6 separate regions of the Homo sapiens genome follow, and regions 2, 3, 4, 5 and 6 are each linked to region 1. Evidence: fine-mapped expression QTL. A gene starts in region 1. Each other region holds a variant in brackets. All regions are shown on one strand. Distances are between the middles of the regions.

What was found.
Region 2: its variant is fine-mapped to the expression of DNASE1 in whole blood (INTERVAL, PIP above 0.99).
Region 3: its variant is fine-mapped to the expression of DNASE1 in whole blood (TOPMed, PIP above 0.99).
Region 4: its variant is fine-mapped to the expression of DNASE1 in whole blood (TOPMed, PIP above 0.99).
Region 5: its variant is fine-mapped to the expression of DNASE1 in whole blood (TOPMed, PIP above 0.99).
Region 6: its variant is fine-mapped to the expression of DNASE1 in whole blood (INTERVAL, PIP above 0.99).

Annotation. Positions count from the first base shown.
Region 1 is chr16:3,652,369-3,656,454 of GRCh38, reverse strand. It overlaps DNASE1 (deoxyribonuclease 1), which reads right to left and starts at 1,764. Exons shown (of 9, transcript NM_005223.4): 1 at 1,411-1,764; 2 at 935-1,082; 3 at 518-606; 4 at 270-353. The coding sequence starts at 1,081. LOC124903631 (a long non-coding RNA gene) reads left to right here. Exons shown (of 2, transcript XR_007064954.1): 2 at 1-4,086. RefSeq lists enhancers at 532-1,059, 1,060-1,587.
Region 2 is chr16:3,620,358-3,624,443 of GRCh38, reverse strand. It overlaps a transcript of DNASE1 not described here. Among named protein-coding and RNA genes, the nearest start is that of SLX4, 11 kb to the right of the region's middle. The variant C/G (reference allele first, on the strand shown) is at 1,858.
Region 3 is chr16:3,582,161-3,586,246 of GRCh38, reverse strand. It overlaps SLX4 (SLX4 structure-specific endonuclease subunit), which reads left to right. Exons shown (of 15, transcript NM_032444.4): 13 at 1,376-1,478; 14 at 2,737-3,150; 15 at 3,554-4,086. The coding sequence ends at 3,905. Among named protein-coding and RNA genes, the nearest start is that of NLRC3, 6.8 kb to the right of the region's middle. The variant A/G (reference allele first, on the strand shown) is at 2,392.
Region 4 is chr16:3,609,562-3,613,647 of GRCh38, reverse strand. It overlaps SLX4 (SLX4 structure-specific endonuclease subunit), which reads left to right and starts at 2,042. Exons shown (of 15, transcript NM_032444.4): 1 at 2,042-2,088; 2 at 4,082-4,086. It also overlaps a transcript of DNASE1 not described here. RefSeq lists an enhancer at 1,725-1,794 and a silencer at 1,835-2,184. The variant G/A (reference allele first, on the strand shown) is at 1,644.
Region 5 is chr16:3,596,387-3,600,472 of GRCh38, reverse strand. It overlaps SLX4 (SLX4 structure-specific endonuclease subunit), which reads left to right. Exons shown (of 15, transcript NM_032444.4): 6 at 2,474-2,676; 7 at 2,778-3,094; 8 at 4,080-4,086. Among named protein-coding and RNA genes, the nearest start is that of SLX4, 13 kb to the left of the region's middle. The variant T/G (reference allele first, on the strand shown) is at 1,881.
Region 6 is chr16:3,505,107-3,509,192 of GRCh38, reverse strand. CLUAP1 (clusterin associated protein 1) reads right to left here. Exons shown (of 12, transcript NM_015041.3): 3 at 2,778-2,862; 4 at 725-904. Among named protein-coding and RNA genes, the nearest start is that of CLUAP1, 6.1 kb to the right of the region's middle. The variant G/C (reference allele first, on the strand shown) is at 1,852.

The DNA of each region.
Region 1 (4,086 bases):
TGGTCCGGGACCCAGGCGACAGGAGGGCGGGGGAGCCAGGCACCTGCTCAACCCATTGGTCCGGGACCCAGGCGACAGGAGGGCGGGGGAGCCAGGCACCTGCTCAACCCATTGGTCCGGGACCTTGGGGTGTTTTCACTCCACCCTGGACCCTGCTCTGAAGCCTCAGGTTCTTGCCATAGGACAAACTAATAGGACAAACTACTTCCCTGCTCTGTTGGGGCCCTCCCAGGTGAGGGAGGGGCTTCCTGGCTTTCTAGACCACCCACCTGTACACGAACAGGTAGCGCTCCTTATAGCTGTTCCGTCCCAGTGGCTCACTGACCACGTAGTGATAGGTGTCTGGTGCATCCCTGGATTGAAGAAACAAAAGGTCCCAGTGGCGGGGGCCATAGGGGACCCCTCTGGCTGCCGATAGCGAGGCTGTGCCCAGGTCCCCACCCTTGGGGCCCAAGTGAAGTGAGGCTGTGCCGTGGACGAGATGTCACCTTCCTATGACCCTGCCACTGTCACCCACTGATTGAGGTTGTCCAGCAGCTTCCCCACGGCAGTCAGGTGGCTGTCTCTGACCTCCTGGACCAGGGCGATGTCATAGCGGCTCAGGATCTGGGGGCAGGGCCACAGTGGTGCTGAGCAGGGCTGGTGCCACCCAGGGACCCTACAGCGCCACAAAGGGAGCCACAGCTGATGCTCGTGGCATTGCTCGGTTTAACCGCAGCCTCATGTTTCTGCCTGGGCTCCTGCTGCCAGCCAGGGACAGCACAGCAGGGATGAGGACCTTGGTCCACAGCCAAGAGCCTGTTCCACCGTGCTGGGAGCAGTGGTGCTCAGTACCCCACACCCGACACCCTGTGGCTCCATAGGGCTGGCCCTGCCCACCAGCCCTAGACTCCAGAGCTCCTCTGCTTTTGGGGGGAGGCTGCCCTGGCCTCACCTGCACAATGTAGCTGACGAGGGTGGCATTGGACATCTTGGTCTCCCCAAATGTCTGGATGTTGAAGGCTGCGATCTTCAGGGACACGGCCCCCTGCAGTAGGGCCGCCAGTGCCAGCAGCGCCCCCAGCAGCTTCATGCCCCTCATCCTGGGAGAGCACAGGGCACAGAGACATAACAGAAGTGAGACGTCATCCCTGCCACAGCACTCCAGCCTTCTGGAGCCCAGCTGGCAGGGGCTGGTGGAGCTCAAGGTCAGGGGGACGCAGGCGGGGGAAACCCTTTCCTACAACGTCCAGAAAGCCAAACAGCTGGCACCACGTAGAGGACCCCGAGTCACTCCTCCATCCACCAGAAAACCCGCCCGGGAGGGACGCTGGAGCCTCCGCCTCACTCGCTGCTGGAGGATGAGACTCTAAGCCTCCCTCCCTGCTCCAAACCGGCCAGTCACCCAGAGGCACTCCACCTGGTGCTCACCTGAGATGATGGTGATGTCCTCAGAGATGACGAGAATGCTGTCAAGAATCTGGAATATCCTTTGATGACAATTTTCTCCTTTTGCTGCTTAAAGAAAAAAAAGTAGTCTATGAAGAAAGGTCTCTGAAGAAGCACTTCAAGGCCCTGGCAGTGCTGCTGGGCTCCGGATCCTGCACAGGCAGTGCGTGTCTGGGAGTTTTAAAAGTTCAGGCAGCTGTGACCTTCCCTGGGGCAAATGTGAGCCGTCACCTGAGAGTGCAGAAAACAATGGCTCTGTGTGGCTTTCCGCATAGGTGGGTTGCTAGCACGTGTTTCTTTCTGTAAGCACAGGTTTCTTGCTGCTGTAAAAACTGCACCTGATAATCACGTTTGCACTTAGTTTTAAAATGTCTGATAACAAGGCCAAAGGTTCCTATCCCGTGTCCCTTGCACGTGTGGTGGCCCCCATCTTCCAGGATAGGGCAGGGATGGGCCAGGTATGTGCGGGAGGGTGGGGCTGGGCTCCAGTCTCCCTGTCTCTTGTCTGGGGGCCCCAAGGTCACTTTGGACAAAGAGGCCAAAGCCACATCCAAAGTTGCAAATGGAGCCCCCTGGTGGCTGACAGCCATGACTGCTCTGTGGCCCAGGACACGCCTGCCTTCCTGATTCATCGCCATCAGGTGCAGGCAACTCTGCAGGAGGCTGGGGAGCTCGGAACAAGCAGTGGTGGGGGCCTGCAGCACCAGCGCCGTGGGGCCAGGACAGGTGGGGCCTGCAAAGCCCACCCCAATTGCCAGCCAAGCAGTGGGGAGCCTTCTTGAGGTAGACAATAGGCTGTGTGTTTAGGCCCAGGGGATCCCGAGTGACCAGGTCACAAGGGCAGGGCAGCAGCTAAAGGCCAGGCCTCAGGTCCAGTAATTTCTTGGTTCTTTTGTTTTGGGTTTTTATTGTTTTTGAGACAGGGTCTCACACTGTGTTGCCAAGGCTGGAGTGCAGTGGCACAATCATGGCTCATTATAGCCTCAACCGCCAGGGCTCAGATAATCCTCCCTCCTCAGCCTCCTGAGTAGCTAAGACTATGGGTACGGCACCATGCCTGGCTAATTTTTAAATTTTTTTGGTAGAGATGGGGTCTTGCTCTTTTGTCCAGACTGGTCTTGAACTCCTGGCTTCAGGCAATCCTCCGGCGTAGCCAGGACCACAGGTGCATGCTACCATGCTCAGTTTTTTTTTTTTTTTTTTTTTTTTTTTTTTTTTTTGAGGCGGAATCTTGCTCTGCTGCCCAGCCTGGAGTGCAGTAATACTATCTCGGCTCACTGCAACCTCTGCTTCCTGGGTTCAAGCAATTCTTCTGCCTCAGCCTCCCGAGTAGCTGGGATTACAGGCACGCACCACCACACCCGGCTAATTTTTGTATTTTTAGTAGAGACAGGGTTTCACCATGTTGGTCACACTGGTCTCAAACTCGTGACCTTGTGATCCGCCTGCCTCGGCCTCCCAAAGTGCTGGGATTACAGGCGTGAGCCATCGCACCCAGCCTATTTTTTAAGTTTCTCACAGACACAAGGTCTCCAAGTCCTGAGCCCAAGCAATCTTCCCGCAAATGCTGGGATTACAAGTGTGAGCCACCGCACCCCGCCACTCATTTCTTGGAATCTTTGACTTTCCATTCGTATTCATTTCCTGAGACTGGTGAAACTACCACAAGTTTGGTTGCTTAAAATAACAGAAATGGATCCTCTCAAAATTCCGGAGACTGGACGTCTGAAGTCAGGGAGTCAGTAGGACCTTGCGCCTCCTGGAGGCTCCGGGCGGTTGGGGGATGCTCCTTGCCCTCCAGTTTCTGCAGGCTGCCAGCAATCCTTGGCTTTCCTTAGTTGTGGCTGCATCACCCCAGTCTCTGCCTCTTCTTCTTAAGATCTGTGCACCTGCATTTGGGGTCCTCCCAGAGAGCAGGGAGGATGTCCTTATCTCAACAGCCTTTACTCACATCTGCAAGTCCTTTTTTGCTACAAAAATCAACATTCAGAGGTTCCAGGGCTAGGGCACAGCTATCTTTTGAGCCACCCCTGGGTCTTGCCCACTTGGAAGGGGCTGTGCTGGCCCTCCAAGGACAGCCCTGCACGTAGCATCTGTGGTCCCCCTGGGGGAGGAGGGCCTGGAAGGCTTGGCAGAAGTCCAGGCGGGATTCAGGTATGAGAACTGCAGGAAATGAATACAAATGGGGTCTGCAGGAGGCCTCAACGGCAAGAGTCAGCAGGGGCCAAGGTCGAAAGTCAGGAAAGTGCTCGGTCTGGCCAGCTGGCCATGAAGCAGAAGGCAGGCCCAGTGGGGACTAGAAACAGGAAGGTAAACCACCCTCCACAAGACTGGCACCCCATTCCATAAAGACACGCCAACAGACGCCTCTGGCTGGCAGCACTGGTGCACTCATCTGTCCCTCCTATTGAGACGGCGTCTACCAGATGGAAACACCACCACTCCTCAGGCTGCCAGAGGCCCCATTGCAGGCTTTTCCAAAGGTTTCAGCAATGGTTCTTCCCTGTTTTTAATCTCTAAGTCTAGGACAGCCTCCAGCACGTCAAAACCCAGCCCCCAAGCAAGGCCACCGGAGTATTCGGTGTAGGGACTAGTCCTCTGCCTTTGGTGTTTGCCTTTCCTGGACACACATCTGACAGCGACCCATCACGGGGAAGG
Region 2 (4,086 bases), 32 kb after region 1:
CTAACCCAGTGCCTAGAGCACCACCAGGTGCCTTACGCAGCTGGCCAATAACAATTTTAATGTAAAAATAAAAACTCTAGAAGAAAACATGCAGAAAATTACTTTATAATCTCAAAGTAGAGAAGACCTTGCTAACCAAGGACACAAAAGCCACTAACCTTTTTTTTTTTTTTTTGAGACAGAGTCTCACTCTGTCGCCCAGGCTGGAATGCAGTGGCACAGTCTAAGGTCACTGAAACCTCTGCCTCCCGGGTTCAAGCGATTCTCCTGCCTCAGCTTCCTGGGATTACAGGCGTGCACTACCGCGCCCAGCTGATTTTTGTATTTTTAGTAGAGACGGGGTTTCACCATGTTGGCCAGGCTGGTCTTGCACTCAAGTGATCCGCCTGCCTTAGCCTCCCAAAGTGCTGGGATTACAGGTAGTGAGCCACCGCACCTGGCCTCCATACTGTTTTCTATATAGAGGTTATAGTAATTTACAGTCCCATTAACAGCATATAAGCATTTCCTTTTCTGTGCATCCATGCCAACATCTGTTGTTTTTTGACTTTTTAATAATAGCCATTCTGACCAGTGTAAGATGATATCTCACTGTGGTTTTGATTTGCATTTCTCTGATGATTACTGATGTGAGCACTTTTTCATGTTTCTTTGCCGCTTGTATGTCTTCACTTGAGAAGTATGTGTTCTTGTCCTTTGCCTACTTTCTCTCTAATTCCTGGCCTCAAGTGATCCTCCTGCCTCAGCATCCCAAAGTCCTGGGATTACAGGTGTTAGCCACCACGCCCAGCCTTTGCTCACTTACTAATGGGTTTTTTTTTCTTGTTGAGATCCTTGGAGATACTACGTATTAGTCCTTTGCCAGAGGCTTAATTTGCAAATATTTTCTCCCATTCTATAGGTTGTCTATTTACTCTGTTATTTCTTTTGCTGTGTAGAAGTGTTTTCATTTAATTAAGTCCCATTTGCCTATTTTTCTTCTTGTTGCATTTGCTTTTGAGGTCTTAGTCATATATTCTTTGCCTAGGCTAATATCCAGAAGAGTTTTTCCTAGGGTTTCTTCTAAGATCTTTAGAGTTTCAGGTCTTATGTTTAAGTCTTTGAGTTAATTTTTGTATGCGGTGAGAGATAGAGGTACGGTTTCATTTTTCTATATATGGTTAGCCAATTTTCCCAGCGCTATTTATTGAATAGCGTGTCCTTCCCCCACTGCATATTTGTCAACTTTATTGAAGATCAGTTGGTTGCAGGCAAGTGGCATTACTTCTGGGTTCTCTATTCTGTCCCACTGATCTATGGTACAAAAATATGTACAAGTACCATGCTGTTTTAGTTACTGCATGAGTAGCTAGGACCACAGGTGTGCACCACCATGCCCAGCTAATTTTTTTGGGGGGACGTGGGGGGCAGGTACATTAGAGATGGAGTCTTACTATGTTGCCGAGGCTGGTCTCAAGCTCTCAAGAAATCCTTTCCCCTCACTCTCCCAAAAGAGGCCTTGTAGTATAATTTCAAGTCAGGTAATGTGATGCCTCCAGCTTTGAAGAACCTTTGTTCATTACAAGGCATCATTAAGAGAACGTAAAGGTGAGTCAAACACTGGAAGAAGGTATGTGCATACAAGAAAAGTTATTTTACTACAAAAAACTGTAAAGCTCTACATGGAAAAAATTTTATTAAAAGTCAAAGCCAAGCCAGGTACAGTAGCACATAGGTGTAGTCCCAGCTACGTGGGAGGCTGAAGTAGGGGGATCACTTGAGCCCAGGAGTTCAAGTCTAGCCTGGGCAACATGGTGAGACTCCACCTCAAAAAAGAAAAAAAATTTTTTTAAGTCAAATGATAAAAACTGGTAAAAA[C/G]TATCTGTAACATTGTAACACTATATCCATTTCCACAATATAGAGTTCTTACAAATCAATAGGAAAAAGATTAATCACATAATCTTACAAACCAATAGGAAAAAGATTAATCACACAATCTAAAAGAATGCAAAGCCCACAAACATAAGGTCATAGGTAAACAAGTAGCTTTTAATCACGTGAAGAAAATACTCGTTTCCTCAATGAAAGAAATGTAAAGTAAAGCTACAAGACACCAATTTTTAACCGCTGAAATAGTAAAAGACAAAATGTTTCATGATATATTCTGTGAGTGTGTGGATATGAGTAAAAAGACATTCATTGTTAACGGAATGGAAACTGATTCAGCCTCCGTTTTTTTTTTTTTTTTTTTCAGTCTTGCTCTGTCACCTAGGCTGGAGTACAGTGGTGTGATCTTGGCTCACTGCAACCTCCACCTTCCGGGTTCAAGCGATTCTCCTGCCTCAGTCTCTGGAGTAGCTGGAATTACAGGGGTGCGCCACCATGCCCAGCTAATGTTATATTTTTAGTAAAGACGGGGTTTCAACATGTTGGCCACGCTGTTCTTAAACTCCTGACCTCAAGTGATCCACCTGCCTCGGTCTCCCAAAGTACTGGCATTACAGGCATGAGCCACCACGCCTGGCCAATTTGGCTTCTTTAGAAGGTAACTGGGTAACACCCCAAAACACTCTGATTTACCCATATCCTTTGACCCAGCAATTCCACTTATGTTACAGGAATATCCTACAAATATATGTGCAAATCTGCATAAAAGTATATACAAGTATGTTCAATGCACCATTAGCCATTGTAGAAGGAAATGAAAGCCATCTAATGTCCCTTGATAGGTGATACAATGAAGTATGAATGTATCCAAATGATGACATATAATGCAACTGCTAAACAAAATGATAGATTTATATGTAATAAGGAAAAATCTCCAAGACAGTTCATTAAGTTGCAAAAACGAGGTTCAGAACAATGGGTAAAATGTGCTACCGTTTATTTACATTGGGGAAAAGCAGGGATATATATTTATATTTGTATGTGCACAGAATTATCTGGAATATTTCAAGAAGCCTCTGATGAGGGAGTTTGGAGGTCAGGGGGCCAGAAGTAGGAGGGAATTTTTGTACCCTTCTGAAGCTCCTGGACAAAAAAAATTAACAATGTACAGGTATTCTTTTCTAAAACAGGTAAACCAGGCAAGAGCAATGGCTCATACCTGTAAACCCAGCACTTTTGGAGGCAGGAGGATCACCAGAGGCTAAGAGTTTAAGATCAGCCTGGGCAAGATAGCAAGACCCCATATCTACAAAAATTTTTAAAAGTCAGTTGGGTGTGGTGGCACACGCTTGTACTCTTGGCTACTCGGGATACTGAGGCAGGAGGATTGTCTGAGCCCAAGAGTTCGAGTCTATGCTCGTGCCACTGCATTCTAGCATGGATGACAGCAAAACCCTGTCTCTAAAAAAAATATAAAATAGGCCGGGCACAGTGGCTCACACCTGTAATCCCAGCACTTTGGGAGGCTGAGGCGGGTGGATCACGAGGTCAGGAGTTCAAGATCAGCCTGGTCAATATGGTGAAACCCCGTCTCTACTAAAAATACAAAAATTAACCAGGTGTGGTGCAGGCGCCTGTAATCCCAGCTACTCCGGAGGCTGAGGCAGGAGAATCGCTTGAACCTGGGGAGCGGAGGTTGCAGTGAGCCGGCATTGCGCCACTGCACTCCAGCCTGGGTGACAGAGTAAGACTCTGTCTCAAAATAAATAATAAACTTTTTAAAAAAAAAAATCAGGCAAACCAAACAAAACACACATACCCTTTAGCCTAGAAATCCTAGATTTAGGACTCCTTCCAAAAGAAATAAAAACACACACATACAGGTTATAAGTACAAAGACATTTATTGCATAATCTATAATGATAAAAACTATAAATATATCTTTATCAACAGGGGAATGTTTGATTAAATATGGAATATAATATGGCTTCCTATCTACTGACTTAGAGAAATGCTCATGATGCAATATGCATAGTATAATTACTTTTTTTTTTTTTTTGAGACAGGGTCTCACTCTGTCACCCAGGCTAAAGTAGAGTGGCATGATCACAGCTCACTGCAGCCTCGAAGTTACAGTGAGCTATGATCAGGCCACGCTGCACTCCAGCCTGGGTGACACACTGAGTACTCTGTCTCTAAATAAATAAATAAAAGGTTTCT
Region 3 (4,086 bases), 70 kb after region 1:
ACACACGGGTTGTTTTTAATTTGTGGTTATTAATAATGCCACTTAGGAATATTGATGTGCAAGTTTTCGTGTAGACATGTTTTCCTTCTTCTTGGTTCTGTACTTAGGAGTGGAATTGCTGGGTCATATGGCAACTGTGTTTAGCATTGTGAGGAACTGCGAGACTGTTTTCCAAAGTGACTGCACCATTTTAAATCTCCACCAACACTTGTTATTCTGTTTTTGTTGTTGTTGTTATTGTTTTGAGACAAGGTCTTGCTCTGTCGCCCAGGCTGGAGTGCAGTGGCGTGTTCATGGCTTGCTGCAGCCTCAACCTTCCTGGCTCAGGTGATCCTCCCACCTCAGCCTCCCGAGTAGCTGGAACCAGCCACAAACAGCTGCCCACATTGGTGACTTGGGCCACCACACCCTGCTAACTTTTTTTGTATTTTTTTTTTTTTTTTTTTGTAGAGATAGGGTTCTGCCATTTTGCCCAAACCCTCTGTGTTTTTTGTTATGGCCATCCTAGTGGGCGTGCAGTGGTATCTCACTGTGGTTTTGACTTGCATTTCCCTGATGACTAATGATGTCGGGCACCTTTTCATGTGCTTATTGGCCATTTGTAGATCTTCTCTGGAGAAATGTCTGTTCACATCCTTTGCCCTTTTTTTTTTTTTTTTTTGAGACAGAGTCTTGCTCTGTCGCCCAGGCTGGAGTGCAGTGGTGTGATCTCGGCTCACTGCAAGCTCCGCCTCCCAGGTTCACGCCATTCTCCTGCCTCAGCCTCCCAAGCAGCTGGGACTACAGGCGCCCGCCACCACGCCCAGCTAATTTTTTGTATTTTTAATAGAGACGGGGTTTCACCGTGTTAGCCAGGATGGTCTCGATCTCCTGACCTCGTGATCCGCCCACCTCGGCCTCCCAAAGTGCTGGGATTACAGGCGTGAGCCACCGCGCCCGGCCCCTTTGCCCATTTTTTAACTGGGTTTTTTTAAATTGATGAATTATTTTTAAAAAGCAAAACTGATGTCTAAGCCTGTTTGAAGAGTATCAGTGTGGCCCATTGTCTCAAGTTGTCACTGTGGGTCAGATATTTTTAAGTTTACATGCATAAGTTTTAGTCACGTGCCGGGCTGTTGGGTTCAGTGGCCCCAGGAGCTCTGTTCACCCGGCACCCGTGTTATACAAGGTGTGGTCCTCAGTGCGTGTCACCGATGCTATCATTGGGAAGCCCCTGCTCCAGACAGGGAAGGGGTGACCACTGTTGCTTTCATGGAGCAAAACGATGCTTGGGTTATCTTCAAGTGCATTATTCCTCTTGGTCACGCTACTGGGATCAGATGTGGGAAATCCGTGTCCCTCATGCTAAAACGTGTGCTTCTTTTGTTTTACCCAGAAGGTGCTAATCGGAAGAAGAACTTGCCCCCCAAAGTGCCCATAACGCCGATGCCACAGTATTCCATTATGGAGACGCCGGTGCTGAAGAAGGAACTGGATAGGTTGGCGGTCTTCAAAGCTTGTTGCCCACAGTGGTCTTTTCCCTCCCATAAGTAACTGGGTTTCACACACCTGGGGGCGGAAGGGCCCCCCGTGTGGTCTCTGGGTCTGGTGGATGCAGCTGGCCTGGGCTTGGGAAGAAAGGTCTGCAGTCAGCTCCTTAGGGAGCATGTGTGACTGCTGGGTGCCGGGGTGAGCCTCCCAGTTCTCTCTGCGTACCATTCCCCAGGGAGGCAACACACAGGATTCGTGCATGTCACCCCTGGGCAGCAGGTCCCCATATTCCATGTAGATGGAAATGGCCCCCTAGCCAGAGCAGTCTGAGTGAGGAGGTCTGATTTTTTTTTTGAAAGACAGAGTCTTGCTCTGTCGCCCAGGCTGGAGTGCAGTGGCGCAGTCCCGGCTCACTGCAACCTCCACCTCCCGGGTTCAAGCGATTCTCCTGACTCAGCCTCCCGAGTAGCTGGGACTACAGGCACACGCCACCACACCAGGCTAATTGTTGTATTTTTAGTAGAGACGGGGTTTCACCATGTTGGCCAGGCTGGTCTCGAACTCCTGACCACGTGATCCACCCGCCTCGGCTTCCCAAAATGCTGGGATTACAGGCGTGAGCCACTGTGCCCGGCGGAGGCCTGATTTTTTTTAAAAGAACATTTAACTCTCACATCCACATGACACTGCTCTTCCACTCGGGCACCCGGGGAAGCTGCTGCTGCCACCATCCCTCAGAACTGGGAGCAGCATATCTTTTGTTTATTTTTTATTTTTGGAGACAGGATCTCACTCTGTTGCCCAGGCTGGAGTAGAGTGATGTGATCTTGGCTCACTGTAGCCTCAGCCTCCCGGGCTTAAGCGATCCTACCTCATCCTCCCTAGTAGCTGGGACTACAGGTGACACCACCACGCCTGGCT[A/G]ATTTTTGTATTTTTTGTAGAGGCGGGGTCTTGCTATGTTGCCCAGGCTGGCCTTGAACTCCTGAGCTCAAACTGTCCTCCTGCCTCAGCCTCCCAAAGTGCTGGGATTGTAGGCGTGAGCCATTGTGCCTGGCTGGCAATGTTTCTTTTGGAATATTCAGAGTAAGCTTAGTTGGCGCCTAGAATAGACACTAACCTCTGATGCTCACAGAAGTCAGGCATCTATGGTTTGTCACACAAGCCATTCGCTGAATGCATTGGGTATCACTCTTTGCTAAGATAGGGAACGTGGAGTGTGGACCAGCTGTGTGGGTGGGTCCTGAGATCCACCTGTTCCTCCGTCAGGTTTGGAGTCCGCCCTCTGCCTAAACGCCAGATGGTTCTGAAGCTGAAGGAGATATTCCAGTACACTCACCAGACCCTGGACTCAGACTCCGAGGACGAGAGCCAGTCCTCACAGCCGCTGTTGCAGGCGCCTCACTGCCAGACCCTCGCCTCCCAGACCTACAAGCCTTCAAGGGCAGGGGTCCATGCCCAGCAGGAGGCCACCACAGGACCTGGGGCCCATAGGCCCAAGGGACCTGCTAAGACCAAGGGCCCCCGACATCAAAGGAAGCATCATGAAAGCATCACACCCCCAAGCAGGTCGCCCACCAAGGAGGCACCTCCAGGCCTCAATGATGACGCCCAGATCCCAGCCTCTCAAGAATCCGTGGCCACCTCTGTGGATGGCAGTGACAGCTCCTTGAGCTCACAGAGGTAACCGGATGGATGCGATGGGGTCAGTGGCCTCATGTATCCTCTGGCCCGTGGGCGTGAGGGTTGGCACGAGTGAGACCTAATGGCCAATCTTCAAAAACCCCCGTCACCTTCTGGGTTTGACCTGTGGGAAAACCAGGTGGGTTTAGGGGGCTGGTTCCCTGACCCCAGCCCTGCGCAGGCCTCCTGGTTCCTGCCCCACATGCTAGACATTTCTGGCTGGGGCAGGATCCCGCTGGCGTAGCCTGCAGGGATCTCTCAGGCCCGTCCTGCCTTGCTGGGGATCGTGCCACAGGCCAGGCTCCATGGGACCCGTAGACACCTTCCTTCCTTTAAAGAGGCTCATGGTCTCAGGGGCTGGAGAGAAAGGGGTTGCACAACGTCCTGGTCTGGCTCTTTTCAGTTCTTCCTCCTGTGAGTTTGGAGCGGCATTTGAGTCTGCAGGTGAAGAGGAGGGCGAGGGGGAGGTCAGTGCCTCGCAGGCAGCCGTGCAGGCGGCGGACACAGACGAGGCGCTGAGGTGCTACATCCGCTCCAAGCCGGCCCTGTACCAGAAGGTGCTGCTGTACCAGCCCTTTGAGCTGCGGGAGCTGCAGGCAGAGCTGAGGCAGAACGGCCTCCGTGTGTCCTCGCGCAGGCTGTTGGACTTCCTGGACACCCACTGTATCACCTTCACCACTGCCGCCACCCGCAGGGAGAAGCTCCAGGGCAGGAGGCGGCAGCCTCGGGGCAAGAAGAAGGTGGAGCGGAACTGATGGGGCCATCCCGACCCCACCCCAACCTGCCATCAGCAGCCCCCACCCCCGCCATTTGCAGGGAGGACCTGGGACACCCAGCGTGGGTCAGGCCTCCACAGGCATTTCTGGGCCTGGGGACCACATCAGCTCTGCGCTGTGATGATGACCACAGCCCAATCCAGGGCTTCCTCCTCTGGGC
Region 4 (4,086 bases), 43 kb after region 1:
TGGGCTGCTTATCATTCTTGTTCTGTCTTCTTTATCCAGTTGGAAACCATATTACAAACTAACTTAGATTTCCAAGCCAGAGAGCAAGTAAACACCTCCTAAATCCTTCATCAAGGAAAACCTCTTGGAAGGTTTTGAAGCTCAACATTCAGAATCAAATGTAGTCTTACCCAGTAATTCCACTCCTAGAACACAAAAACTTGTGTTATGAACACGAATGTTCATAGCAGCATTATTTCTAACAGCCAAAAAGTAAAAACATCCATATGCCCATCACCTGATACATGGATAAACAAAACATGGTCCATCCAAACACGTGATTATGCAGCCATGAAAAGGCATGCAGTACTGATTCATCTACATGGATGAAATCTTGAAAACATGCTTAATAAAAGCCCAGCAGAAAAAGCCAAGTATCACATGATCCCATTTACATAAAATGTACTGAATACGCAAAACCACAGAGACAGAAAGCCGATAAGTGATTGCCAGGGGATGGGGTCGGGGGAATTGCGGAGTGACTACGAATGGGTACGGCAGGTTCGATTTGGGGTTTTAAAACGTTCTGGAATTAGCGACGATGGCTGCAAATCCTGTGAACGTACTGGAAACCACTGAATGTACACTTCTAGTGTGCATTTTATGATACTGTATCTTTTAAAAAACATATTGTCTGCCCTGCAAACTGATTCCTTTACACCTCTCCTGTGTTCATTATTTCAGTGACTGGAGGCACACTACTCTCAGATGTTAAGGCCAGAAACCGGCAAATCGTTAACAACTGCGTCTTGACTATGCTCCATATTTCTCCATTCTTTTCGCTCCACCTCCTAATTCGGGCCGCTCTCACTTTTCATCTAGATTATGTAATAGCCTCCTAATGGGTGTCCTTGCCTCATCTGTTCTCACTGTAATTAGGCCTTTAAAAACAAAATCTTACGCCGGGCGTGGTGGCTCACGCCTGTAATCTCAGCGCTTTGGGAGGCCGAGGCGGGAGGATCTCTTGCGGCCAGGGCTCGAGACCAGCCTGGGCAACATAGTGAGACTCCCCCCCCCGCCCCCACCGCCCGTCTCTACTTAAAAAAAAAAAAAAAAAAAGCCGTGAGCGGTGGCTCACGCCTGTAATCCCACCACTTTGGGAGGCCGAGGCGGGCGGATCACCTGAGGTCAGGAGTTGGAGACCAGCCTGGGCAACAGAGTGAAACCTAGTCTCTACTAAAAACACAAAAATTAGCTGGGCGTGGTGACTGGCGCCTGTAATCCCAGCTACTTGGGAAGGTGAGGCACAAGAACCGCTCGAACCCGGGAGACAGAGGTTGCAGTGAGCCGAGATCGCGCCACTGCACCCCAGCCTGGGCAACAAGAGCAAAACCCCGTCTCAAAAAACAAACAACAAAAAACCTTCAATGGCTCCCGACGACCCCAAGTTGAAGCTCAAACCCTTAATACGATGTGTAAAGTCCCTCAAATACCAAGCCATGGCAAACCTCTGCTACCTTTCCCCCAGGCCCTGGCTGGCTTCACCCTAGCCCTGCGGAAGAGCTCGGGCATCCCCTCCAGGCACCTGAAGCGCGGCAGAATCCCCTCTTCACGTAGCTAACCCTCCCCGACCTCCAGGCCTCGACTCTCACGCCACCCCACCT[G/A]AGAGGAAGCTTCTCGGGCCCCCAGGCCAGATTTGGTGCCTCTCCCGGTCCCCCTCACACCGTCCACTCTCCGCTCCACAGGCAGGTATGCCCAGAGGGGGCCGCCGTTGTATCCGCGAACATTTCCTGAGCCAGCTGGGGAGGAACCAGACTTTATCTCACAGCTGCCACAGTGCCTTAAACTCGCCCTAACTCTTTCTCAAAAACTAACAGACTCCACCTGAAGCAAGCGCCGCTTCCGCCTCGCCCCGCCTCCTGCCGACCGGAAGCGCTGGCCGCCGCGGGCCCGCGCCCGGCGCCGCAGAGGAAGACCGGAAGCGAGGCTGCCGCACCACCGCGCGCGCCCGCTCTGCGCCTGCGCGCAGGCAATGCTCCGCGGGGGCGCGGGCGGCGCATGCGCAGGCGCGCGAGTCTCCGTTAAGAAGGTGCCGCGGCGGCGCCGGAGGTAGGAGGAGCCGGGCTGTGGGGCTGGGAGTCGGCACCCGGGAGGCGGAGGTCCTGTCATTTCGGGCCGTTCTCTCTTTCCTAAGGGAGAAGAGCCTTTCTCGCCCGTCTCCCTCGCTGGCTCCGTGGCCTCGGCAGGCCCGCAGCCCCGACGGAGAGGCAGGAGCCGCACTCGGGTGGAGAGGGGCCGGGGCCCGCCTGGAGGGAGGAGGGTGGCGGATCCGGATCCCCACGGTGGTCTCCGTCCGGGCCAGTCCGGGGATCGGGGTTCTCCGTCTGACTTTAGAGCCGTTAGAGTCTTTGGCAGCCCTTTTCCCAGACGGGGAACCCCTCAGCCCCTTTCCGTAGGTCGCCGGGTTGGGGGAAGCGGGAGGGTCCGCCCCTTACCGATCCATTCATTCATCCCTCGCCTGCTGTGAGCCGTGGGCTGCGGTAGGTACGAAGCAAGGAGGCACAAGTCCCCTTCCCTCTGGAAACCTGCAGGCTTGCAGGATCCGTTATGTCATTCAGTAAATCTTGACTGGGCACCTATAGGAGGAGATAGACTGTTGTGAGGTTCATATCAACAGAGATGCGGAGATCAACACAGTTGTGGAGGTGGAATTTGTTCCAGCCGCTCCCCGCATCCAACAGGATAAAATTCACTTTGCCTAGCCTGACCTTCCAGGCCCTTGTGAGCCAATCCTTTCCTCTCCCCGCAGCGTTTTCTCCTACACCTTTCTCTCTACTCCCATTATACCGAACTCTTTGCAATTCATGAATTCAACAAGTAGTTGTGGAGCACTTATTTCAAGTCAGGCACCAGATCAGCCAAAGAGGTTGCAAAGTAATAGATGGATCTCTACCCTCCTGAAGTGTTGAGCTTAATGGGGGACAGATAATAAGCCGATGAATAAAAACACAAGAGCGGATAGTTTCGAACCACACTTCCTGGGTTTGATCCCAGCCCTGCCACTGTGAAAGCTGTTCCTGAACTGGCTTTAGGCCAGTTCCTCATTCTGCTTGCGCGTGTTTCCTTGCCGTAAAGACAGGATGACAAGAGATTCCACCATATAGGCTTCTTGTAAGGATTAAACGAGTTTGACTTGGAAAGCAATTGGAACAGTGCTTGGCACACAGTAAGCATTCGATAGATATTACCTGTTTCATATGATGATAACCTATGACAGATGCCATTGTGAAAACAGTGGGCGATGATAGGGATTAACGGGGATGGAGACGGTCCATAAAGGATTAGAGGACACTTCTCTAAGGGGAAGACACAGAAGAGAATGCGCCAGCCATACAAAGTAGATTCTAGGTAGGAGTATTTTCAGCTCTGGAAAACAAAATGATTAATTAGATTCCTTGGACAGTGGAGATTGCATTATTGTATTTGAAAGGAATAACTTTCTGCCATTGGGTCATTCAGTTTTGATTTTTGAACCCCACTTAGCTGTGTGCCAAAGTAAACAACCATGCTCACGAGGCCCAGCCTTTGCACACAGGCGACATTCCAGTCATCCAGGTTTGGAGAGCCTTGCTGGGTTGAGAAGATAAGTAAAAGTGACCTTTTCTCTCCTGAGTGTTCATGAGAATATAATGTCTCTTTCTGTCTCTTATGTTGCAGTATTTACAGAAAGAGCCTCTTTAACAGCCAGGGGTCTTAGATCAGTGTAGGAGATAGTTTTCCTAGATTTGGGGATCATCCTGTTTCTGTGGTGACTGCCTTTTATGGGGTTTGCTCCCTAAATTTCAGTTAAGAAAACACTCTCCCAAGATGCACATATTTTAATACCTGTGGAAGAACAACATGCTTTGACAGGTTTCTAGGTCCTTTTGTTGTGATGTCTGATAGGACGGTTAGACCATGTTAACCAGGCTGGACTGAGTATTTGACAGTATTGTTACTCCGAAGACTTTTCCCTCACCCCACATGCCCTTGTCCCTCCCTGGAAGAACTGGCATAAAATGACAATGTCTGATTACACTTACATGCTTTTGGTTTTCCACAGATGTG
Region 5 (4,086 bases), 56 kb after region 1:
AGGCTCTGGACCTGCCCCTTTAGGGGGGTGCAGAAATGATCTTCGCACTGTTTTCCTCAAGGTCCTTCCTGAGTTTCCAATCCCATGATCCCACAGTCGGTACCCTCTAGTGCAGGGGTCCCCAACCCCCCAGCCTCGGACCAGTACCGGTCTGTGGCCTGTTAGGAACCTGGCCACACAGCAGGAGGTGAGCAGCGGGCAGGCAAGCTTTACTGCCTGAGCTCCGCCTCCTGTCAGATCAGTGGTGGCATTAGACTCACAGGAACACAAACCCTGTTGTGAGCCGCACATGCATGGAATCTAGGTTGAGCTCTCCTTATGAAAATCTAAAGCCTGATGATCTGAGGTGGAATGCTTTGATGCTGAAACCATTCCCCTACTCCTGTCCCATGGAAAAATTGTCTTCCATGAAACCAGTTCCTGGTACCAAAAAGGTTGGGGACTACTGCTTTACCACATCTAAGAATTTGGTAGTCACTTTACTCCATCCATTTCGTTGTTGGACAGCATGGTTTCCACCTCAGCACAGTCCAGTTTTCACACTGTTAACATAAGATTACTCAGCACAGTTCACAGATTTGGTGATTGGCCAGGCACGGTAGCTTACACCTGTAATCTCAATACTTTGGGAGGCCAGGGCGGAAGGATCACTTGAGCCCAGGAGTTCAAGGCCAGCCTGGACTACATAGCAAGACCCATCACTACAAAAAATTAAAAAATTAGCTGGCTGTGGTGCTGCACACCTGTAGTCCCAGCTACGTGGGAGGCTGAGGCGGAAGGATCACTTGAGCCTGGGAGGCCAAGGTTGCAATGAGCTGTGATTGCACCACTGCACTCCAGCCTGGGCGACAGGGCAAGAACCTGTCTTCATAAAACAAACAAAAACAACAACAAAGTTGGTGCAACAGAAGTGTAGGACCCTATTTTTTAAAAATCTTGCATGAATTAATGCTTAAAAGTTAAAATGAGTTGCCTTGCTCACAGCCAGGAAACAAGTCCTCAGCATGCAAACCACAGCCACACAAGTGCCAGAGGGCTGGCCCTGCTCCACGCTGCCCTGCTGCTGAGGACGCTAGAGCTGACACCAGGTTCATAGTGAACAAAGGCATCTTGGACCTTTGACTCCTCCAGGTTTGAGACCGCTGTCAGGAGCAAAGGGAAGGCCAAAGGCGATAGCTGTTTGTCCCGCCCCCTGCTTTGCACACAGGTCATGGGCAGCTGAGCTGGCTCGGGGCTGAGATGGCAGAGGGCAGAGGGGATTCTCTTGGTGGAGGAGCGCATCTGTATTTAGCATGGCAGGGGTGCAAGCCTTGAGGCCTTAGAATAGACGTCATCTAAGCCATTGTTTCTTTCTTGGCAGGACCACGCCAAAAGCACCTGCTCAGATAAAGTATGTCTGCCTTTAGAATACCTCCAAGTACTGAAACTAGATGTATGTGGATCCGTTTAGAAGGTTGTCAGAGTAGAAAACTACAGGAGCTGGATGCCCTCATGGGGTCTTTGAACCCCTCCCTCCCCAAAGGCCAAGCCTGTGGTCATCAGAACGCATGCCCCGGCCAGAGTGCCTCATATTCTTTCCCCACAGCCCAAACCTGGCCTGCTGGGGAGTGAGGAGGGAACACAGTCTGTGTTCCCTTCACAGAAGCAGGGTCCCAGGCTGCCCAGGCAGCTCCTTTCCCTCTGGGAGGCTGTGATTATCCACGTTCCTGGGAAGGTGAACTTGAGCCATCCCTGGCACCCTGGAGAGCATGAGCTTTTGCAAAAGCCAGAGGCATGACTGCATTGCAGGGAAGGTGGGCCCGGTTTGTGCTAAGTTCCTTTGTCACCTCTGCCCTCCTCCTTCTTGCCCAGCTTATTGGGAGTCACCCAGGCAGCCTAGG[T/G]TCTCTCCAGCCGGAAACTCCTGTTCATTTCCTCCAAACCAAACGAGCTGCTGCCCGTTGAAAGTGCAGAGTCCCGGGGCGGCTGGTATAATGTTGACCATCGGCAGCCTAAGCTGGGAAGCCCTTCCTTCTGGCCATGGACAGAGGCACTGCCGTGGAGCCCTTGCAGGAGGGAAGGGATCCTTTTCTGCCGGTGTGGCCAGGACCGTGTAAGGAGCATCGGAAGTATTGATGGGTGAAGGTGGTGGGAGTCCAGGGAGCCTGCTCAGAGCCATCGATTGTTGACTCCATTGGATGGGCTTGGCCACATGAGGATGTGCAGGTACCACAGATGGCTCCGTACATCTGCCATGAGCCTGCTGGACAGCAGCACGTGAAGGAACCCAGACCCTCCTGTGCCTGGGCCATGTTGAACTTCTGGCCTGGAATTGAATGAGTTCACACAAGGCAGTGGAAGTGGGGGACGCATCTGCCTGGCAGGTCCACATCCGTCACTTTTCTCTCAGGCCCAGCCCTCTCCAGACCAGTGTGACCAACCTGAGAAGCGTGCACTCCTCTAGCCCCAGTAACTTTTCTCTTTGGCTGTTTTCTAGCTTCAGTGATCACAGTAGAGGTCTGAAACGGAGAGGACCCACCAGCAAGAAGGAGCCACGGAAGAGGCGGAAGGTGGACGAGGCACCGTCCGAGGACCTGCTGGTGGCCATGGCTCTGTCCCGGTCGGAGATGGAGCCGGGTGCGGCTGTACCAGCGCTCAGGCTGGAAAGTGCCTTTTCTGAGAGGATAAGACCAGAAGCAGGTTTGTGTGATCAGAAGAGTGACCCTGGGAGAGGCCATCAGCAGGTCCCGGGTGAGTGGACCGACTCCACCGTTGATGGTGTCGCTTTTGTTTCTCTCTAGAGAATAAAAGTCGCAAGAAGAAACCCCCGGTATCCCCCCCATTGTTGTTAGTCCAGGACTCTGAAACCACAGGCCGACAGATAGAGGACCGTGTGGCCCTGCTCCTCTCTGAGGAAGTGGAATTGTCTAGCACGCCACCACTTCCTGCCAGCAGGATTTTAAAGGAAGGGTGGGAAAGAGCGGGCCAGTGTCCTCCTCCACCTGAACGCAAGCAGAGCTTTCTGTGGGAGGGCAGCGCACTGACTGGGGCCTGGGCCATGGAGGACTTCTACACGGCCAGGCTGGTCCCTCCTCTCGTGCCCCAGCGGCCTGCCCAGGTGAGTCCCTCCCCTCAGGCACATGGATAGGCTTTTGGGGGAGGTTGGCAATCCCAGAACTGCAACACTGGGTACCCACAGCCAGGTGATGGAAAGTCCAGGAAGGAAAGGCAGAGGCGGGAGGAGGCCAGAGGGGCACTTGGTGGCTGCAGCTTTCTTCTCTGTCCAGCAACTACATGGTACTCTGGGTAGGATCAGGGAGGACCCTTGGTGTCCACCAGAGTGTGTTCCTGGAGTTTGTTGAAAATGCAGAGTCCCGGCCGGGCGCAGTGGCTCACGCCCGTAATCCCTGCACTTTGGGAGGCTGAGGTGGGCGGATCACGAGGTCAGGAGTTCGAGACCAGCCTGGCTAATATGGTGAAACCCCATCTCTACTAAGAATACAAAAATTAGCCAGGCATGGTGGCACACACCTGTAATCCCAGTTACTTGGGAGACTGAGGCAGAAGAATCGCTTGAACCGGGGAGGCGGAAGTTGCAGTGAGCCGAGACCGTGCCATTACACTCCAGCCTGGGCAACAAAGTGAGACTCTGTCTTGAAAAAAAAAAAAAAAACAGAGTCCCAGGGCAACTGGCAAAATGCCTCAGATGGAGCCCGGAAACTGGCATTCGGAGCACACACTCCAGACAGTCGTGCGGCAGGTAGCCCTACAGTCAGTACGCAGCTGCCTGAGGCAGCTTGGAGGACTTCAGGAGGGCGGCAGGCCTGGGCCCCCCTGGCCTCTGACAAGCCTTTGTGCAAACAGATGCCACAGGCCTGGCCTTGGCCGTGACAGAGGAGGAGCATGTTGACATGAGTGCTGGGGAAAAGCATCCCAGGACTGCTCCAGGCTGTGGCTGGAGCCCCGGGGACAGTCTGTCCCCACAGCCCACATCCTGCTCTGTAGTTTTAGGTCCAGCCGTGCATACCACATGTGATGGCTTCTGCAGTGTGTGCGTCAATGACAGTGACCACGTGGTCACTCTCCTTACTGGCTTCTTTCAGGGCCTTA
Region 6 (4,086 bases), 150 kb after region 1:
GACTGCCTGGGCTCAAGAGATCTTCCCACCTCAGCCTCCTGGGCAGCTGGGACCACAGGTGTGTACCACCACGCCTAGCTAATTTTTTTCTTTTTTTTGGTAAAAATGGCGTCTCACTATGTTGCCCAGGTTGGTCTGGAACTCTTGGCATCAAAGGATCCTCCCACCTCGGCCTCCCAAAGTGTTTGGCTTACAGGAGTGAGTCACTGCACCCAGCCCAAAACAAATTATCATCCTGAGACACCCTGACGCCACCCGCCACCCGCACAACTCACTCTTTCCCTCCCTTGGATCTCTGCTGGAAACACCATCCAATCCATGAGGCCTTCCTGATCACCCGATTTAAGATCACTCTGGGCAGCATCCATCCCCATCCCAGCTTATTATTCTCCACAGCCTGCACTGCATCTGGCCTTCCACACCTCTTATTGTTCACAGTCTGACTCCCCTAACTGAAGAGAATAAACACACGATTTTTGTCCTTTTTGTTCACAACTGTATCCTCAGCGCTTGAATGCTACCTGACAAATACTAAGCTTTTAATAAATAGTTGAATTAGTGGATTGTGACTTTGACTTTATCCAAATGCTGATGAGCACAAAACTGACAAACTGCCCTCAGCTGAGGAGGAAGAAAAGCAGCGGAGCTGTAGCAGACTCCTTCCACTTCAGAGCTCAAGAAATCAACGCTCCATCGCCCACTACAAGGCTTTTGTTGTCCTTACCTTTGAGCCAAGATCAAACTTGAACTTGTTGACATCTTCCTCTACTATTTCAGAGCCCTCCATCCCCTTGGTCTTCATAGCATTATAAAGGACAGATGTGATCTTCAGCAGCTCTTTTACCGCATACCCATCTGCTTGATAAAGCTTCTTAGTGTTGAGTTTTATATGTGCCTTGGTGGCCTATTTTTAGACCAAAAAAAAAAAAAGTTGAAGGCCCTTTCCATGTAATGTCTAAACTAAATCCCATGTAGGTGAGTTGAAAATGCCTCTGCTGACAACTGGGATATAACCTAATAAAAGCAAAGCATTCAAGTGACTCAAACATTGTGAGTGGTTGTATAAACTGGGACAATCTTGATGGAGAGCAATTTGGTAAAAGACATCAAAATTACAAATGCACATATCTTTTGACCCAGCAATCCCAAATCTAAGAACTTATTCTAGGGACACACTCAAACACAAACAAAATGAGATGTACAGGTTATTTGTTACAGCACTGTTCCAAAGAGCAAAGCTTCAGACAACCTAAAAGCCTACCTATATAAATTACATAAATTATGGCAAATCCATGCAAGCAATACCACTCAGGCGTAAACAGAATGAGGAAATTCTATATGTATTTGGAAAGTTCTCTAAAATATACCATTAAGTAAAGCAAGATGCTAAACATCTTGTAGTGTACAGTAAGTACATCAAGTAGAATACAGTACCATTTGTGTAAAACAAAGGAAAAATATATATTTTTATTTGCACACACACACACACACACACACACACACACACACACAAACTCTGGAAGAGATTTAAAATAGTGGTTATTTGGAATGGAACTTGGCCCAGGGCAGATAGGGTAAAAAGTCATTTTACTCCATTTTGTTTCATAATGTTTTTAATTTTTTTTTTTTTTTTGAGATAGGGTCTCACTCTGTCACCTGGGCTGGAGTGCAATGACATGATCCCGGCTCACTGCAGCCTCAACCTCCCGGGCTCAAGCAATCCTCCCACCTCAGCCTCCCAAGCACCTGAGACTACAGGCACGTGTCACCAGGCCCATCTAATTTTTTTTAAATTTATTTTTTGTAGAGACAGGATCTCACTACATCACCCAGGCTGTTCTCAAACTCCTG[G/C]ACTCAAGCTATCCTCCCACCTTGGCCTGCCAAAGTGCTAGGATTACAGGCATGAACAACCACGCCCAGCCTACTTTCAATTTGTGAGCCATGAAATATGTTATCTATTCAAAAATAAATAAATAAAATTCTTTTTTTTTTTTTTTAAGACAGAGTCTTGCTCTGTTGCCCAGGCTGGAGTGCAGTGGCGTGATCTCGGCTCACTGCAAGCTCTGCCTCCCAGGTTCACACCATTCTCCTGCCTCAGCCTCCCGAGTAGCTGGGACTACAGGTGCCCGCCACCACATCCAACTAATTTTTTGTATTTTTACTGGAGACGGGGTTTCACCCTGCTAGCCAGGATAGTCTCAATCTCCTGACCTCGTGATCCGCCCACCTCGGCCTTCCAAAGTGCTGGGATTACAGGCGTGAGCCACCACACCTGGCATAAACAAAATTCTTAACAAATAATGAATTAAAAGACAAACAAAAAGAACTTCGCTGGTGAAATGGTGCCACAGAAACCCAGCAATGGAATGGTTTTAGAAAGCAAACTCAGGCCAGGCGCGTGGTGGCTCACATCTGTAATTCCAGCACTTTGGGAGGCCAAGGAGGGTGGATTACTTGAGGTCGGGAGTTTGAGACCAGCCTAGCCAACATGGTGAAACCCAGTCTCTACTAAAAATGCAAAAATTAGCCAGGTGTGGTGGCGTGTGCCTCTAATCCTAGCTACTCGGGAGGCTGAGACAGGAGAACCCCCGAGGAGACGGAGGTTGCAGTGAGCCAAGATTGTGCCACTGCACTCCGGCCTGGGCGAGAGAATGAGACTCCATCTCAAAAAAAAAGAAAGAAAAACTCAATTACACAGTTTGAAAGTCGCCCTAACAAGGAGTCATCCTTTCTAGTTTATTTAATTTTACAACTCCACAAAATAAGTGTCCACTAACCATGAACTGGGCAATTGCCTTAATGAAGAAAACTCGGTCCTGTTCAGTATCCACGTCAGGCGGGATGTCAGTCTGGGGCTCATATCTATCAAGAGAGGTAAGAGGAGAGAGCACGGGTTAACCAAGGAGAAAGTCTACTAAAGAGAATGTGGGCAACTGAGAGGACAGCGGGTCTGGAACACAACGCTCTCCAAGTCCCCAAGTGGGAGAGTGAGATCAAGGCAAACTTCAAAAGCAAAACCAAATACCAAGGGAGCAAATCCCCACCTAAGAAAAACAGATTTCAAAAACTAAATGTGGATCTCAGCTTATAAAATTAAATCTCTCTCAGATCTCACCATGTCATGAAGCTAATCAGAACTGCTACCCTGGCTGACAGCCCTTGACTCAGAGATCAGTGCTAGGGCCGATTAGTCAGCTCTAAGCAGCAGCAGAGTTGGTGAAGTTATTTTCTTCAAGGTATTGAAACCAGGGGTCAGCAGACTGCAGCCTCCGACCTGTACAGCCTGCAAGCTAAGAACTGTTTTTACATTTTAACAAAAAGAAGAGACGCAATAGAGATCTTATGAATTTTATATTTAGCAAAAGGTAAAATATTATCTGGTCCTTAACAGAAAAAGCTGCCAACCCTGAATCATATAACATATTCAATTTTTTCACAGAAAAAGAAATCTCCATTATTTCTAATCCAGTGTACTGATCAGAATGTGCAAAAAGGCCCCTGTCACTCTGCCATGAGGGGCTGAAGAGCAGCCTGGCCCAGCATCCTACTGAGGAATAGTCGTCTCCTTTCACGACTTCCTGGTATATTTCCCACTCCCACAGCATTCTTTAAACTCCACTGATTTTTTTTTTTTTTTTTTTTTTTTGAGACGGAGTCTCGCTCTTTCACCCAGGCTGAACTGCAGTGGCGCTATCTCGGCTCACTGCACACTTCGGCTCACTGCATGCTCCGCCTCCCGGGTTCACTCCATTCTCCTGCCTCAGCCTCCTGAGTAGCTGGGACCACAGGCGCCCGCCACCACGCCTGGCTAATTTTTTGTGTTTTTAATAGAGATGGGGTTTCACCGTGTTAGCCAGGATGGTCTTGATCTCCTGACCTCGTGATCCACCCGCCTCGGCCTCCCAAAGTGCTGGGATTACAGGCGTGAGCCACTGCGCCCGGCCTGATTTTGTTTTTTGAGACACAGTCTCAATCTGCCCGGGCTGGTGTGCAATAGCATGATCAGTGGCACTGCAGCCTCAAACTCCTGGGATCAAGTGATCCTCCTGCCTCAGCCTCCTGAGTCGCTGGAACTATGAGTGTGTA